Regions from separate parts of the Homo sapiens genome. Here region 1 is linked to region 2. Evidence: fine-mapped expression QTL. A gene starts in region 2. The other region holds a variant in brackets. All regions are shown on one strand. Distances are from middle to middle. Region 1 overlaps LOC105372437 (a long non-coding RNA gene). Region 2 holds the start of NR1H2 (nuclear receptor subfamily 1 group H member 2).

The links.
Region 1: its variant is fine-mapped to the expression of NR1H2 in prefrontal cortex (ROSMAP, PIP 0.95).

The regions. Positions count from the first base shown.
Region 1 is chr19:50,344,251-50,347,158 of GRCh38, reverse strand. All of the region lies in intron 2 of LOC105372437 (a long non-coding RNA gene), which reads right to left. It also overlaps the pseudogene NAPSB. Among named protein-coding and RNA genes, the nearest start is that of KCNC3, 16 kb to the right of the region's middle. RefSeq lists an enhancer at 2,471-2,520. The variant T/AAAT (reference allele first, on the strand shown) is at 1,135.
Region 2 is chr19:50,374,749-50,377,655 of GRCh38, reverse strand. NR1H2 (nuclear receptor subfamily 1 group H member 2) reads right to left here and starts at 1,199. Exons shown (of 10, transcript NM_007121.7): 1 at 1,080-1,199; 2 at 830-937; 3 at 8-69. The coding sequence starts at 50. RefSeq lists a silencer at 569-658 and an enhancer at 479-1,290.

The DNA of each region.
Region 1 (2,908 bases), 30 kb after region 2:
TCAATCACGGTCCTTTCATGTAAAATCTTTAGTGTTGTGAACCCTTAAAAGCGACAGAAATTGTGCACTCAACAAGCTTGAATTTTAAGATGCTAGTCTGCTGATGCTTCCAGCTGATTAAAAGCTACTTCCTTCACTATCTCGGTGTCTGTGGGGTTTTCTCCACAGCTTGTCCTGCTACACTAGAATAGCATATCCAGTGAAAATATTCTTCAAGCATGAAGGAGAAATAAAGACTCTCCCAGAACAAACAAAGCTGAGGAATTTCATCAACACCGGATCTGTCCTACAAGAAATGCTAAAGGGAGTACTTCAGTCAGAAAGAAAAGCATGTTAATGAGTGATAAAAAATCATCTGGGCCAGACGCGGTGGCTCACGTGTGTAATCCCAGCACTTTGGAAGGCAGAGACATGTGGATCACGAGGTCAGGAGATCGAGACCATCCTGGCTAACACGGTGAAACCCCGTCTCTACTAAAAATACAAAAAAATTAGCCGGATGTGGTGGTGGGTGCCTGTAGTCCCAGCTACTCGGGAGGCTGAGGCAGGAAAATGGCATGAACCCGGGAGGTGGAGCTTGCAGTGAGCTGAGATCGCACCACTGCACTCCAGCCTGGGTGACAGAGCAAGACTCCGTCTCAAAAAAAAAAAAAAAAATCATCTGAAGGTACAAAACTCACTGCTAATAGTAAGCACACAGAAAAACATGGTGTATTGTAACAGTATAACTATGGTGTGTGAACAACTCTTAAGTAGAAAAACTAAAGGATGAACCAATCAAAAATAATAACTACAACAACGCTTCAAGACATAGACAGTACAATAAGATATAAATACAAACAACAAAAAGTTAAAAAGTTGGGGACAAAGTGAAGGTGTAGAGTTTTTACTAATTTTCTTATTGTTTGTTGGTTTGTTGGTTTGTTTATGCAAACAGTGTTAAGTTTATGTTGTCAGCTTAAAATAATGGGTTATAAGATAGTATTTATGGCAGGGCACAGTGGCTTACGCCTGTAACCCCAGCACTTTGGGAGGCCAAGGCAGGCGGATCATGAGGTCAGGAGATCGAGGCCATCCTGGCTAACACGGTGAAACCTCGTCTCTACTAAATATACAAAAAAAAAAAAAAAAAAA[T/AAAT]AGCCAGGTGTGGTGGCAGGCACCTGTAGTCCCAGCTACCCTGGAGGCTGAGGCAGGAGAATGGCGTCAACCCAGGAGGCAGAGCTTGCAGTGAGCCGAGATCGAGCCACTGCACTCCAGCTTGGGTAACAGAGCGAGATTCCATCTCAAAAAAAAAAAAAAAAAAAGACAATATTTGCAAGCCTCATGGTAACCTCAAATCAAAAAACATACAACAGATACAAAAAAAAAAGCAAAAAATTAAATCATATGACCAAGGAAAATTATCTTCTCTAAAAGGAAAACAGAGGCCAGGTGTGGTGGCTCACATGTGTAATCCCAGCACTCTGGGAGGCTGAGGCGGGTGGATCACCTGAAGTCAGGAGTTTGAGATCAGTATGGCCAACATCATGAAACCAAATCTCTATTAAAAATACATAAATTAGCCAGGTGCAGTGGCACGCGCCTGTAGTCCCAGCTACTCGGGAGGCTGAGGCGAGAATCGCTTGAATCCAGGAGGCAGAGGTTGCAGTGAGCCGAGATTGCACCACGGCACTCCAGCCTGGGCGACAATGAGATTCTGTCTCAAAAATAAATGAATAAATAAATAAATAAATAACATGAAAGAAGGACAGAAAGAAGAGAATACTACAAAACAACCAGAAAACAAGTAACAAAATGTCAGGAGGACGTCCTTATCAAGAACAACATTGAATGTAAATGGACTAAACTCTCGAATAAAAAGATATAGAACGGATGAATGGATGAAAAAGAAGACCCAATGTTTTGTTGCTTACAAGAAACATACTTCACCTACAAATAAGAGTCTGGGTCCTCAGACGCAGGCAGTCCCACTTCATATGGGAGGGCAGGCTTATAATCAGTTCCTCTCTCCCTTCCCCAGGCCCTTCACAGACACCTGCTGGTCCCTCCCACTTGGCCAAGGAAACACTGTGGTTAATGAGTCTCAGAAAAGTGATGTGAAAGTGAGAAGTAAAAGTGACAGAGGCTAAAGGATGGGGGGTGGGAGGCAGTCCCAGCAGAGGACACCCCACGACCACCACCCCCCAAGTAGGGAATGAGGAGCACTAAGGACACAGGATACAACTTTTGTTGACACTACACAAATACTCTGCACAAATCTTCAAAAACATCCTTGTCCCCCTGTGTCACCTGCTGAGAGACCTCGTGTTCTGGTCACCTCCTAAACCGGGAGGTGGGGCATAAACAGGGTGGAGTCACAGGGGAAAGAAAACTAGGAAGCCTGGGTTCACACCCGGCTCCCCAGCAATGTCTCCACCACTGCTGCTGCTACCCTTGCTGCTGCTGCTGCCTCTGCTGAATGTGGAGCCTGCTGGGGCCACACTGATCCGGTATGGTGACCCCATTTGCCACCCCCAAACCTGGGAGGGATTCTCTGCTTTTTGCCCTTTAAGTCTGGGGCTCCTGGTTCAGTGATTCCCAAACCTGGCACCCAGGATCCTTGACTCTTCTTTCTTGGCTTTCCAGATCTCTAAAGTGGGCTCTCACCCCGAGGGCTCTACTCTGACATCTCCTAAGATCAGAGCTCCCTTTTATTTATTTATTTTTTTTGAGACAGAGTTTCACTCTTGTTGCCCAGGCTGGAGTGCAATGGCACGATCTTGGCTCACCACAACCTCCACCTCCTGGGTTCAAGCGATTCTCCTGCCTCAGCCTCCCAAGTAGCTGGGATTACAGGCATGTGCCACACCACCCCGGCTAATTTTGTATTTTTAGTAGAGATGGGGTTTCTCCATGTTGATCAGGCTGGTCT
Region 2 (2,907 bases):
CACTCACCAGGCAGGGGGGTATCCAGGGAACTCGTGGTAGGAGAGGACATGGTGGGGTCACGGAGCAGCCTGTAGAATACAGGGGATTGAGAGCCTTGTGGGGCTAAGAAGGGTTAGGTTAGGTCAGTTACAGGTCCTGACAGGGCTTTCCCTTTTTTTTCCATCTCTCCAAAGACCCTACTCTCAGCCACAACCCTGGTTCCTGCCAGCCTACAAACCCTCCCCATCCTTCTAACAAGACCTGCCCCCTTCTGTTCCACGCCAGCCTTCAGCTTGGTCTTAAGCCCCGCCCCTGCTGTAGGCCCCGCCCCCTCAGGTCCAATCCACCTGCTTTTTCTAGGTAGGGCCCATTCTCCTTTAATCATGCTCTGCCTTCACGGCCTCCATGCCATGTAGTTTCCCCCCACCTCCTCTTCTTAAGACTCTACCTCACTTCTGCCCCAAGCATCCCTATTTCTCATTCTGACCCCACCTCCTCCTACTATGCTCCGCCCTCAACCTTCCAGGTTCAGCCCCTAAAGCCCCCATCATGGGCCTCCCAACACCTTGCCCCGCCCCATATGCATCCCTCCCTCCAAGCCTCACCCCCACAACCTCGCTCCAGGTCCCCATCCCCTCCCATCATGCCCCGCCCCCGCCCCGCCTCCTCCCTTCCTACTGCACCCCCACAACCTCGCTCCAGGCCCCGCCACATCTCCTCCCATCATGCCCCGCCCCCAGCCCCGCCTCCTCCCTTCATGCCCCGCCCCCGCACCGCGCTGCAGGTCCCGCCCCATCACCTCCCATCATGCCCCGCCCCGCCTCCTCCATTCATGCTCCGCCCTCGCACCTCTCTCCAGGTCCCGCCCCTCTCCAAGCAACAGCGGGGGGCGGGGCTCATGGCTGCGCGCGGGGGTCTCGTGGACGGCCTCTCGCGGAGTGAACTACTCCTGTTGCCCTGGAAACAGCCGCGGGAGGCGCGAATTACCGAGGGGAGGAAATGGAAGGAGAGAAGGGGGCAGAGCGGAGTACGCGGGGAGCGCCGAGAAGCCCCGGGTTCGGGGCTCCTCCTGCGTCTCCCCACTCTCGGGTGCACCTACCTGGGTTCCCTTGCTCTGCTTTTCTTCGTCCTCCTCTTTAGCCCCTGACACACCGCCGCTACTCAAATACCCTCAAAAGTAACTTCGCCACTTCTTCCGGCAACCCCGCCCTTGCGTCACGTCCGGAAGAGGGGCGGAGCGTGAAACTTGACGAACTTCCGGTCCGCTTAGGACCAGCCGAAGCTGCTGCCCCGCACGGAAGTTGGAAACTCACCGGAAGTTTACCGGGTAGATCTACTGGGACTTGGCAGAAGAGTTCCGAACCCATTTCCTCGCTTCTTGGGAGCCAAACCTCCAGCCCCGCGCTTTGTGGCTTTAGCTCATTCATGCGCTTCTCTGAGCCTGCGGCCAAACCCTAGCTATAGCTGCTTGTCGCACATGACTGATTTAAGGCACGTTTGCACTTTTTTGGTCGTTACAAGTTTTCTGATTTTGGAGTCGTGCTGCTTGTTAGTTTTATTTATTTTTATTTATTTATTTGGAGAGGTCTCACTCTGTCACCCCAGACTGGAGTGCAGTGGTGTGATCTCAGCTCACTCCAGCCTCTGCGTCCTGGGTTCAAGAGATTCTCTTGCCTCACCCTCCCAAGTAACTGGGATTACAGGCATGTGCCACCACGCCCGGCTCATTTTTTTGTATTTTTAGTAGAGACAGGGTTTCGCCATGTTGGCGAGGCTGGTCTCGAACTCCTGACTTCAAATGATCCGCCTGCCTCGGCCTCCCAAAGTGCTGGGATTACAGGCGTGAGCTGCGGCACCGGGCTTATTTTTACTTTTTTTTTTTTGAGATGGAGTCTCACTCTGTTGCCCAGGCTGGAGTGCAGTGCCGCGATCTCAGCTAACTGCAACTTCCGCCTCCTGGGTTCAAGCGATTCTCCTGCCTCAGCCTCCCTTGTAGCTGGGATTACAGGTGCCCACCACCACGGCCGGCTAATTTTTCTATTTTTAGTAGAGATGGGGTTTCACCATGTTTGCCAGGCTGGTATCGAACTCCTGACCTCAGGCAATCCACCTACCTCGGCCTTCCAGAGTGTTGGGATTACAGGCGTGAGCCGCTGTGCCTGGCCAGATTTGAGATGTCAGAATTTTCTCATTGTTAAAATTTTGCAAAAATGGTTTCAATAACTTGGTGATTGGAAGAATTAAAAAAGCTCAGTCTCGGACCGGGCGCGGTGGCTCACGCCTGTAATCCCAGCACTTTGGGAGGCCGAGGTGGGCAGATCACCTGAGGTCGGGAGTTTGAGATCAGCCTGACCAACATGGAGAAACTCCGTCTCTACTAAAAATACAAAATTAGCCAGGCATGGTGGCGGGCGCCTGTAATCCCAGCTACTCGGGAGAGGCTGAGGCAGGAGAATCGCTTGAACCCAGGAGGCGGAGGTTGCGGTGAGCCGAGGTTGCGGTGAGCCGAGATTGCGCCATTGCACTCCAGTCTGGGTAACAAGAGCGAAACTCCGTCTCAAAAATAAAATGCAATAAAAATAAAGGAATAAAAGAATGGCTACTCCAGGTAGAGCAGCGGCTTGGGCTGTTCACTGTGATTATACTTATAGTTATTTCTTGATTATATACTAAACAACGGGTGGATTATTCATGAGTTTTCCAGGAAAAGGGTAGGCAATTCTCAGAATTGAGGGTTCCTCCCCCGTTTAGACCATATAGGGGAACTTCCTGACGTTGCCATGGCATTTGTAAGCTGTCATCGTGCTGGTGGGTGTGACTTTTAGCATGCTAATGCGTTATAATTAGTGTATAATGAGCCATGAGGACGGCTAGAGGTCACTCTCATCGCCATCTTGGTTTTGCTGGGATCTGGCTGACTTCTTTAC